Homo sapiens: one gene and its partners. The protein of the gene in region 2 purifies or fractionates together with the protein of the main gene of each other region. This does not show direct contact. Each region holds a gene or a part of one and is shown on either strand. Other genes may lie near its edges.

The links.
Region 1: the proteins of CABS1 (region 2) and ARG1 purify together in Homo sapiens (affinity purification with mass spectrometry; one large-scale study listed by BioGRID and IntAct). This does not show direct contact.
Region 3: the proteins of CABS1 (region 2) and TRAPPC10 purify together in Homo sapiens (affinity purification with mass spectrometry; 3 studies listed by BioGRID and IntAct, with this or other methods). This does not show direct contact.

What each region holds. Positions count from the first base shown.
Region 1 is NC_000006.12:131,576,127-131,579,781, forward strand, and holds part of ARG1 (arginase-1), read left to right. Parts: intron 1-536; coding exon 537-609; intron 610-2,960; coding exon of another isoform or gene 2,961-2,984; coding exon 2,985-3,159; intron 3,160-3,655. UniProt on the Homo sapiens protein: Key element of the urea cycle converting L-arginine to urea and L-ornithine, which is further metabolized into metabolites proline and polyamides that drive collagen synthesis and bioenergetic pathways critical for cell proliferation, respectively; the urea cycle takes place primarily in the liver and, to a lesser extent, in the kidneys.
Region 2 is NC_000004.12:70,333,643-70,337,620, reverse strand, and holds CABS1 (calcium-binding and spermatid-specific protein 1), read right to left. Parts: upstream 2,641-3,978; 5' UTR 2,582-2,640; coding exon 1,394-2,581; 3' UTR 1,275-1,393; intron 656-1,274; 3' UTR 505-655; downstream 1-504.
Region 3 is NC_000021.9:44,088,723-44,092,377, reverse strand, and holds part of TRAPPC10 (trafficking protein particle complex subunit 10), read right to left. Parts: intron 2,546-3,655; coding exon 2,445-2,545; intron 456-2,444; coding exon 329-455; intron 1-328. UniProt on the Homo sapiens protein: Specific subunit of the TRAPP (transport protein particle) II complex, a highly conserved vesicle tethering complex that functions in late Golgi trafficking as a membrane tether.

The DNA of each region.
Region 1 (3,655 bases), on a different chromosome or scaffold from region 2:
CTTTACTGACACACCCTGTCCCCAACAGTGTTAAGGGCATCCTGTTTTTGTTACTAGGACATTTTATATCATCACTGAAGCAGCTATGTATTGAAACTGGAGTTAAATGCCCATATCTCCTATCAGCTTATGAGGGACTCAAAGTCAAAAGCCTTTTCATTATTGGATCTCATCTACCAGACTGCTTTTGCACAAACTACTTGTTCACTGTGTTGATAACATGGTTTGACGGGAAGAGGGGATGTAGGTTTTGGAATCCAAAGACCTGAATATGAACATAGGCTCTGCCACTTATTAGCTGTGTGCCAGTCTGAAAACCATATAACCTTTGTGATTCTAGTTCTTTCTATTTGGCATAAAAGTCATTCAGTCTACCTTGCTGTGAAGATTAAAAGAGATGATGTAAATTCCTGGCTCTGTAGGAGCTCAAAAAATGATAGTTACAGTTCAACTGATTAAATAATGAAAAGGGTTCCTGCTGTGAGCATCTGATGGTCATGATAATGTCTGAAGTACTTTATTTTTTAATTGTTCAGCCACGAGGAGGGGTGGAAGAAGGCCCTACAGTATTGAGAAAGGCTGGTCTGCTTGAGAAACTTAAAGAACAAGGTAATTTTTAAGTTGAAAAATGATCAGCCTGATTTCCTCCCCACTCTGAAGGAAAGAGCAGGCCCCTGTGAACCTGGAGTGTGTCTGGAATATTTACATCAGAATTGCGGTACTGGTTACAACCCGAGAAACACATCCTACAAAAGCAGCAGGGCATGGGGAGAATGCTCAGGAAACATTGCTGGATGTACATCCTCACTCAGATATTTTGTCTTTCCAGCCAAACTACAGTATAAGATAAATTGTGTGTGCAAGAACGGGGGTTGGGGTGGATGGTAGGGGAGCCGGGGGAACAGCAAATGGAAGGCAAGGTGCAGCAGGAAGTATGCTACTAGCAAGAGGACCCCTATTTGTGAAATAAAATAAAATAAAACAGTAATAATGATAATAACAACAGCGCCTAGTGTGGGCGCAGTGTGTATATATACATACATATACATAAGCATGCAAATGCAAATTTACGTATATTTTTAAAGTATGGGCTCAATTTTCTGTTACCTTTACATATAAGATTCTGATAAAGTGTTGGTCAGGATGTGGAGAAACTGGAACCCTCATATATTTCTGATGGGAATGCAAATGATACAGCCACTTTGAAAGTAGGTGGGCAGTTTCTCAGGTAAACATATATTTACATTTTGACCCAGCAGTTCTACTCCTGGGTGCAGAGAAGTACAACTACAAACATTCAAGTACAAGTCTTTGTGTGGATATGTTTTCATTTCTCTTGGGTAAGAGATTTGTGCTTGAATGTTTGGGGGCAGCCATATTTATAATAACCAAAAAATGGAAACAGCAAAATGCCCATCAACTGGTAGATGGTTAAACAAAAAGTGTCACATCCATGCAACGAGATAGTATTCAACAATAAAAAGGAATGGACTGGTCGGGCACGGTGGCTGAGGCCTGTAATCCTATCACTTTGGGAAGCCAAGGTGGGTGGACTGTCTGAGCTCAGGAGTTCAAGACCAGCCTGGGCAACACAGTGAAACCCCTTCTCTAGTAAAAATACAAAAAAAAATAGCTGGGCGTGGTGGCATGAGCCTGTAGTCCCAGCTACTTGGGAGGCTGAGGCAGGAGAATGGCTTGAACCCGGAGGCAGAGGTTGCAGTGAGCTGAGATTGCGCCACTGCACCCCAACCTGGGCGACAGAGCGAGACTCCATCTCCAAAAAAAAAAAAAAAAGAAAAAGGAATGGACCGCAAACACAGGCAAAAACATGGTAGATCTCAAAAGCAGCATGATAAGACAAGAAAGACTACATGTATGATTCCACTGATACGACATTCTGGAAAGACAAAAGCATAGCAAAAGAAAGCAGATCAGCAGTTCCTGGGGTTGGGGGCAAGAATTACCTCTAAAGGGGCAGGATGGAATTTTTCAAACTCATTGACCCGCACAGTTAAAATTAGTGAGTTTTAGTGAACAAGAATTACACTTCGTAAATCTTTAAAAAAAAAAAAAAAAGACAAATACAGACACCCAGTAGAGAACAGAATGCTTGGGTAATGGACTTGTCCCTTAACTGACAAGCATAATTTGGTCACGTGTTGTATCAGGTGAAATTTCTTGGAGGCGTTACTAAATCAGATTCACACAGACATGTAACAAATACCATATTTAATGGCCAATTAGTTCAGAACACCGAACTGAATCACAGTTTTACATGACACTCTCTACTTTTCAAGCCTAATTCAAGGCCTTTTAGGGAGCACACCCAGTCCTTAGGAATTTGGGGTTACCTGCAATTTTTCCTTACTAAAAAGAATAACTAAAAAGCTTTATTTCCGAAGCTTCCAAAGTGTTAGGCTCAGTGCTAAGTACATATTCACATATTCTTATTTATTTATGATAATACCACTATGAGGCAGGTTCAATGGATACTTTGTGTGTCTGTGTGTGTGTGTATCTCCAGATGAAAATACACCAGTGCTTTCTAAATTTTCTGAGAATACATATATATACCGATATATATGTATTTAATTATTATCAAAATGAAGCATGCTTACTATAGAAAGGTAAAAAGCACATAAGCAGAGAGAGACAGAGAGACAGAGACAGAGACAGTGGCATTCCCTATTAAGCCCAAACCAGAAGATTATCACTGTTACATTTTGGTGTCTAGTTTAACTGGATGGATTCAAGAAGTGTTCACTGAGAGCCCAGTATACAGCCGCACCAGTGTGTGATACTGGTAACATGACGTCAAGCAAAAGCAGACATGGGTCTACCTTCCCAAGATTTACAGACCTTTCAGGTTTTTCCTTTGCTTATACTTGTGAATATATGCCTATTTTATACAATTGAGATCATCCTACACAGACTGATTTATAATCTACTTTTTAATTTAGTAACTCAAAACTTTTTAATTTTAGAGTGTGATGTGAAGGATTATGGGGACCTGCCCTTTGCTGACATCCCTAATGACAGTCCCTTTCAAATTGTGAAGAATCCAAGGTCTGTGGGAAAAGCAAGCGAGCAGCTGGCTGGCAAGGTGGCAGAAGTCAAGAAGAACGGAAGAATCAGCCTGGTGCTGGGCGGAGACCACAGGTCTTGTTGAATAACTGTGTCTATGGGAATCTGGCACAAAGGAAGTAACCAAGGCCATAAGAAGAGAGAAAATTTAGAAATATAGACAGAAAAGCATTGACCTATATTTTATATCAAATTTTCTGCCTTTAAAAAAATTTTATAGGTTACTTTTATTATAGAAACAGACTTCGCTCAATTTGAAGTCTTACAATATCTGTATTTTGACCTAGTACAGCAGAAAATGTATGAAATATGAATGGATTTCATCTAAATATTCATCACAAGCTTACATTTCTAAATAAGTATGTGAGGCAATTCATAGCTTATTTGTTCTTAATTGCCGATAATATATACAACTCATATAGGTCAACAATTTCAAAGCATGTGTTTTTCATTATAAAAGTAATGATCATAACATTTTTGAAAGCATCAGACACACACACACAAGAAAAAAAATGTGGTAATTGTACTTCTCTAGCAACCATTTCAACCAGAATTGAAAATCTGGCACATT
Region 2 (3,978 bases):
TCCTAAGTTTTTGTATGGTTTTAGTTTTTACATTAAAGTATTTAATCCATGTAGAATTTATTTTAAAGTATGGTCTTAAAAAGAATTTAAAAATTTGTTTATTATTCCAACATATTTTTTTCCCAAATACTGATTGTTCAAGTAAGATTAACTATTATATCCCATGTTTTTGAAGTCCACTTCACTGTATAACAAATTTTTGTTTCGTAATTTGTTTCTGGGTTTTAACACACTGTTGTGATTATTCTAGTCTATAGTTTATCTAATGGTGCAAATCCCTATACAAACCCCCCGTACATAATATCTTTCATTCACTTGGTGTTTTGGCATTGTTCTTATTTCTTTTTTTAGTGTAATACAATTATGAATCTCTATAGAATAATTTTACTTCTGGGGATTAGAGCTATATTATTCTTTAAACAAACAATGAATTTTCATTTCTCTTTATTTCTCCTAATTTGAGAAGTCTGTAGTAGAATATCAAACACACCTACACACAGTAAATCAGTTGCTTGCCAAAAAGATTTATTGAAGAAAAATGAGCAAAGTGAAAACAGACCCATTTAAGTAGTCTGTGCCAGAAAAGAATGAAGATTTATGTCCTTGAATCGCTAACAAGAGTCATAAGAAGAGTGTGATATTCAGTGTTTAAGACCTGGAAAACATGGACAAAAATTCAGAAAACACATTTTAACAGAAAGAAAATTAAATTGATGTATATGTTTACAGAACATTTTTCTGACAAATATGCATATTTGTAAAATATCATTTTGCTTTAGTTTGTATCTAACATGTGCCAAGAACCCTATCATAAATCTTATGTATCTTACATGTGGGTGCTAAACAATTACTGAATTGTCTTAATTCTTATATGAGGATTAAAAATTTTTTAAATAGAAGAGAATCACTGATGAAATACTAATGAAAAAATTGCTTAGAACAAGCATTTTGGGAGAACTTTTTAGGCTATGGTAATGTTTTGGAGAGGTTAATTTGCTTCTCTTCATATCCTTAATTCTCACTTAAGTATAATATTGACTGTTAACTAAATGATATGCATCATTAAATGTTGTAGAAATGAGCCCCTACATTGCTCTGTCTTCATACTCCCTGAAGGCTAGGACGAAAAATTTTACATTAAGTAATTGTTAGAATATTGAAACTTTGTGATACTAGGGGGACCCTTACACTGCGGTTTTTTTTTCTAAGTTTCCGTAAATCTGTTACATGACCTGTAGTCCTAAGCATCTGCATTTATTGAGTCGAATACTTGCCTTAAATGCCCACATTCTTTCATTTCTAAAGGTTTTTGCTTGTTGGAAAAATTTCTTAGATGTTAAGGCTAGCTGGCTAGACTATTGCACAATTCTACATGGTATCCCTTTTGTTGCTTTTAAATCATGAACTCATCGGGTTCTTCTTTCAGTAGTTCAAAGATATCCGTTTCAGTTGTGGAGGTGTCTTCCTTATAGTCTGGGGTATCTAATACAGAGGTAGTTCCAGAAAATGGCTCAGTGATCTTAGGTACAGTCTCTGTATTATCAGTTTCAGACAAATCTTCTTCTGTAGATGATTCTTCCACTAGGTTTGTAGCTATTGATGCAGGGACAACGAAGTCATATCTGGATTCAACAGCAGTAAGCAAAACAGAATGGGTCTCTGCTTCATTTGCAGTATCTCTCTCCATCCAAATACTGGCTCCCTCGGTAGTTTCTTCATCAGTTAGCAGAGTATCTTCCCGTTTATCTTTGTCTTTTTCAGCAGAGGTAGTGAGTTCAAACACAGTGATAAACTTCTCATCAGAGTCAGTTAATGTAGCCACAGCACTGGTGTCATCTTCTAAAACACTTAGGTCAATTTCGGTTATTTTCTCTTCTTCAAGGGCAGTTATGTCTGGAATAGTAGTGAAGCTTTCTTCAGGAGCAGGAGGGATTTCAGCCTCAGGAATAGTGGAATCAGTGACCTGGACAGCCTCATCAGCAGGGACATTGGATTTGATGGAGGAATTATAATTGCTCATATCAGCTTCATCCTTTTTACGTGGAAAGGCAGGAGCGTCAGCAACACCAGCACTGCTGTCCTTTAGTGTGCCAGAGACTTCAGAGGTTATTGAGATCTCTGCATCTCCTGTGTCAATGGTAGCTAAGAGGATATCTTCTTTTGCTATGTCAGTGGAAAAATCTATTAAAGAAACAGTAGTAACTGGTGATGAAATATTCCCAATTTTCACTGGCATGAAATGTTCGGTAATAGAGTCTCTTGTTATGGAGTTTGTAGTGCCAGTCAGAGAGGTAATTTCTTTCTGTAGGTGAGTTGTTGACTTAATAAAGTCGGTCCCCATATCATCTTCTGATTTGAGTTTTTCCTTTTTAGCTGTCAGTTTGTTGTCTGTAGTTGTTGAAAAATCGCTTTCTAGCATATATTCATTTACTGAAGTGACGTGGTCTCCTTCTGAAGTAATAGTTGTTTCTGATTTGGGAATAGCATTGTCAGCCCCAAAGAAAATGGTTGCTGCAGTTGGTGTTTTACTGCTTTCTGTTGGAGGATGAGAATAAATTTTGGGCAAACCATCTTCAGCCATGGGGCGAAGTGGCACTGTGCACTCTCACAGGTCTTGCTTCTGGACTCAGTGGTATCTCTAGGCAGGAGAGCAGTGTTCATCAGAGTGATTAAAGCTTGGGTCATCATGGTGATTGTTGCATCAACTATGGGAGCAATGTCACTGGGTCTCCTTGGAGGTTGTTTCTAGGCTGCGATTGGTTATCTAATTGCAGGAATATTGAATGAAAAGACTATAGAGTCCGCTCTGATTATGAAATCAAATTCACAGCCAAGCATTTCAATTGCAGGGAACTTAAGATTTACCATGTTTCTGTTTATAAGGAAAATGTCTCCTGATATAGAGCTAGGGTTACTTGAAACAGACATAGCAGAGACTGCCAGGCACCTTTTGGGTTTAGAATTAGTAAGGAAAACTTTGGAAGCCACAAGTTTATCAGCATCAGCTTAAAGTCGTCTATCTTCCAAGCAAGTAACAGAGTATTTTTGAGGTGAAGCCATTTTCCCTTAAGATTCATAGTATTAAAAAAAATTGGTATCTAAAAAAATTAATGGTGTTTTTGTCAGTAAGTATAGCTACAGAAGGTAATTAGGTAGCAGGGAATTCAGTTAGTTCCCTTATTCATAACAGGAAGTCCCACTTTTTCAGTAGAGATAATAACTAATAGTTATTGGCCTGTTTGGGTCTTTTTTTTTTTTTTTTCTTTTTTTGTTTTTTGTTTTTTTTTTTTTCATTTATTTTTATTTTATTTTATTTTATTTTTTTTATTATACTCTAAGTTTTAGGGTACATGTGCACATTGTGCAGGTTAGTTACATATGTATACATGTGCCATGCTGGTGCGCTGCACCCACTAATGTGTCATCTAGCATTAGGTATATCTCCCAATACTATCCCTCCCCCCTCCCCCAACCCCACCACAGTCCCCAGAGTGTGATATTCCCCTTCCTGTGTCCATGTGATCTCATTGTTCAATTCCCATCTATGAGTGAGAATATGCGGTGTTTGGTTTTTTGTTCTTGCGATAGTTTACTGAGAATGATGGTTTCCAATTTCATCCATGTCCCTACAAAGGATATGAACTCATCATTTTTTATGGCTGCATAGTATTCCATGGTGTATATGTGCCACATTTTCTTAATCCAGTCTATCATTGTTGGACATTTGGGTTGGTTCCAAGTCTTTGCTATTGTGAATAGTGCCGCAATAAACATACGTGTGCATGTGTCTTTATAGCAGCATGATTTATACTCATTTGGGTATATACCCAGTAATGGGATGGCTGGGTCAAATGGTATTTCTAGTTCTAGATCCCTGAGGAATCGCCACACTGACTTCCACAATGGTTGAACTAGTTTACAGTCCCACCAACAGTGTAAAAGTGTTCCTATTTCTCCACATCCTCTCCAGCACCTGTT
Region 3 (3,655 bases), on a different chromosome or scaffold from region 2:
ATCAGGCTCTGGGCAGAGTGGAGCAGTGCCCATGCAATCAACAGTGCGTTCAAACAGAAGCTTGGATCTGCACACGTCTACGCATAGAGTGGGACCAGTTTCAGATTTAATTCTTCTAAAAAGAAGAATTCATCCATCCAGCCACCCGCTTACTCAGGAGCAAGCCTCGATCCAGCCTCAGGGCAGCCGGAGGAGCTGCACAGGAGCCTTTACTCATCAGCAGTGCAGCTGTTCTATCTAAAGGCTCAGTCGCAACACATACTACATCATTTCCGTACACTCTGGTTCTCTGTTGAGAAGTTTATGCTCAGGTCTACACAATGTTTACCTGCTGGGACTGCGTGTTCAGTGGTACTAGTTGCAGGTCGGTACTATCACCGGTATCTACAAGATAACTATCTGACAGCTGAAAGTCAAGTTCTGACAAATTCTGGACACAAACTTGAACATATTTCCTAAAGTGGAAAAACAAAAAGTATTATTTTGATATGTAAGAACTTTATTAAATATATCTTAGCTTTGTTAAGGAGACCCTCTCTGCCTGGGGAATCAAAAAAGCAACAAAGCAAAGTAAGCTAAGTTGTTGCATAAGTTTCCCTTCAGATTTCACACCGAAAAGTGCCAGAAAATAAACCTTTTTGGCCGGGCACGGTGGCTCACGCCTGTAATCCCAGCACTTTGGGAGGCCGAGGTGGGCAGATTATGAGGTCAGGAGATTGAGACCATCCTGGCCAACATGGTGAAACCCCATCTCTACTAAAAATATAAAAATTAGCCAGACGTGGTGGCACGTGTCTGTAATCCCAGCTGCTCGGGAGGCTGAGGCACGAGCATTGCTTGAACCTGGGAGGTGGAGGTTGCAGTGAGCTGAGATCACGCCACTGCACTCCAGCCTGGTGACAGGGCGAGACTCCATCTCAAAAAAATAACAAATAAAAATAAATAAAAAAAGTTTTTAAAGAGGCAAGTTCTGTGAGGCAATGGAAGAAAGAATATAGTTTCTGACCAGCCTTATTAAGTGATCATGGCTGGTCACCCTCACTGGCCTTTGGGGAGCCACGGGGAGACAGCAGCAGCCCTCCTCATTACAGGTGAAGACTCTCCATTGAGAGATGATAGGCGGGGCTTATATCCATTTCCATTACATGCAAAACTTTGAAAATATTAATAATAGTTACTATTTTTTGAGACAGAGTCTTGCTCTTGTCGCCCAGGCTGGGGTGCAATGGCACGATCTCAGCTCACTGCAACCTCTGCCTCCCAGGTTCAAGTGATTCTCCTGCCTCAGCCTCCCGAGTAGCTGGGATTACAGGCGCCCGCCACCATGCCCGGCTAATTTTTGTATTTTTAGTAGAGACGGGGTTTCACTATGTTGGTCAGGCTGGTCTTGAACTCCCGACCTCGTGATCCGCCTGCCTCGGCCTCCCAAAGTGCTGGGATTACAGGCATGAGCCACCACGCCCGGCTGAAAAATAATTTTTTAATAAGGTTCTTTTAGAGATTATTGATGTTTTTAACTATTAATATCTACAGTTCCCTTTGCTGTGATTTGAAGGGGAAAAAAGCTGCTAGTATAATGTTCCATTCTAAACATGGGTCTGACGTTTTTGTTTCCAAATTATCCACACATCATCAATGGATAAAAAGTTGTGGTGAGAGGCCAGGCTAGCATCCCGAGCCCATTGATCAACGCTAGCACCGTCACTAAGGTAGGACACCTGGACACCGTGGGCCTCCCGGTGCAGTCAACAGGAAGCACACAGCCCCGCCTGCCTCAAAGCAGAACTGGAGTCTACTCAAGCCTTTAGGGCAGCTGTTTTCCACTGGGGCACGTCCGCCCCACCCAGAGGACACTGGGCAGTGTCTACAGACATCTGTGGCTGCCACACCTGCAGGTGGGGAGTGCTACTGGCATCTCATGGGAGAGCCTGGGGTGCTGCTCAACACCCTACAGCACACAGGAAAGCCCCTACAACAGAGTTATCTAGCCCAAAATGTCACTAATGCTGAGCTTAAAAGCTCCTGTTCTAGAGGTTGCAGGCAATTGACAAGAAATACAGGGACAGGAGAACTAGTTAACAAATCCAGCCAGATCCAGAAAGGCGGGCGTCCAGAGGAAACCTGGCCTGCAAGTGAACAAGTCGATGGCTTGAAAACAGGGAAGAAAGGATGAACAGAGATCTAGTGGTCTGATGGAGATTTTGGACCCCAAGTCACACAAAGCAACCATAAAAGGTCATTTTCAGACAGTTGGGAAAACCTGAATATGAACTGGATGTCACAGGACACCAGGGAATTGTGGATTTTAAGACACAAACAATGGCCTTGTGGTCACATAAGAAGACATCCTTGGTCACCACGAAGGCCAGTTTTGAACATTAGGAACCTCCACTTAGAAGAGTCTGGGGAAAGAAGCCAGGGCCCGCACGCTACGCCTCCGTTACCGTGTTCCTGAGGACAGGAGGCTGTGTGTGGTCCTGAAGGGTACGCTGAAGGTCAGTGCGATGACTGTGGAGTAGATGGACCACGGGCAGTCAATCGACACCTGAGGAGGAAGCACAAAGACACTCTCAGACCACTCGCCGACGGACAGCACAGCCACCACCACTGCTGCCCAGACTCACCTGCAGTGCCCGCCCACGCCCTAGACATTTTATTATGGCTTCAACCACTCATTATCCAGGAAGCAAAGCCTTACCCAACACATACACAAACCAACGAGAAACAGGAAGCTATGCATACAGACAAGAGAAACGAACGCAGAACTGGCAAGACATGCACACATCACCAGAGTCACCTCAACGGCGGAAGAGCACAGCCGTCCTCTAAGCAGCAGACCCACCTGCTGCTCCCATACACGCAGGGCCGCGGAGCCATGCATGTTGCAATGTGCACAGGGTTTTGACAAAGTGCTTTCAGTCATGTATTTCCAGATGACATTAGCCAATCAGTAACTACTCCATAGTTAATGAATTATCTAAGCATTTAATCCATGTGAGGCTGAATATGTAACTGAAAACCAAATCAGTTTAGGGGCACAGTGAGGACAAAGCTATTACATCCCTTAAGGGCAGGAAGGAAGCAAGTCTCAAGCCTTATTCCCCACAGGGAAGAGGTGAATACCCCAGCACACAGCGTGCGTGCCGCCAGTGCCAGGGAAGAGAGGATAACACGGCACATAGCACAGGTGCCACCAGCGCCAGGGAAGAGAGGATAACACAGCACACAGCACAGGTGCCACCAGCGCCAGGGAAGAGAGGATAACACGGCACATAGCACAGGTGCCACCAGCGCCAGGGAAGAGAGGATAACACGGCACATAGCACAGGTGCCACCAGCGCCAGGGAAGAGCGGGGTAACACGGCACACAGCACAGGTGCCGCCAGTGCCAGGGAAAAGAGGATAACACGGCACACAGCACAGGTGCCGCCAGCGCCAGAGAAGAGTGGGATAACACGGCACACAGCACAGGTGCCGCCAGCGCCAGGGAAGAGAGGATAACACGGCACATAGCACAGGTGCCGCCAGTGTCAGGGAAGAGTGGGATAACATGGCACACAGCACAGGTGCCGCCAGCGCCAGGGAAGAGTGGGATAACACGGCACACAGCACAGGTGCCACCAGCGCCAGGGAAGAGCGGGATAACACGGCACAT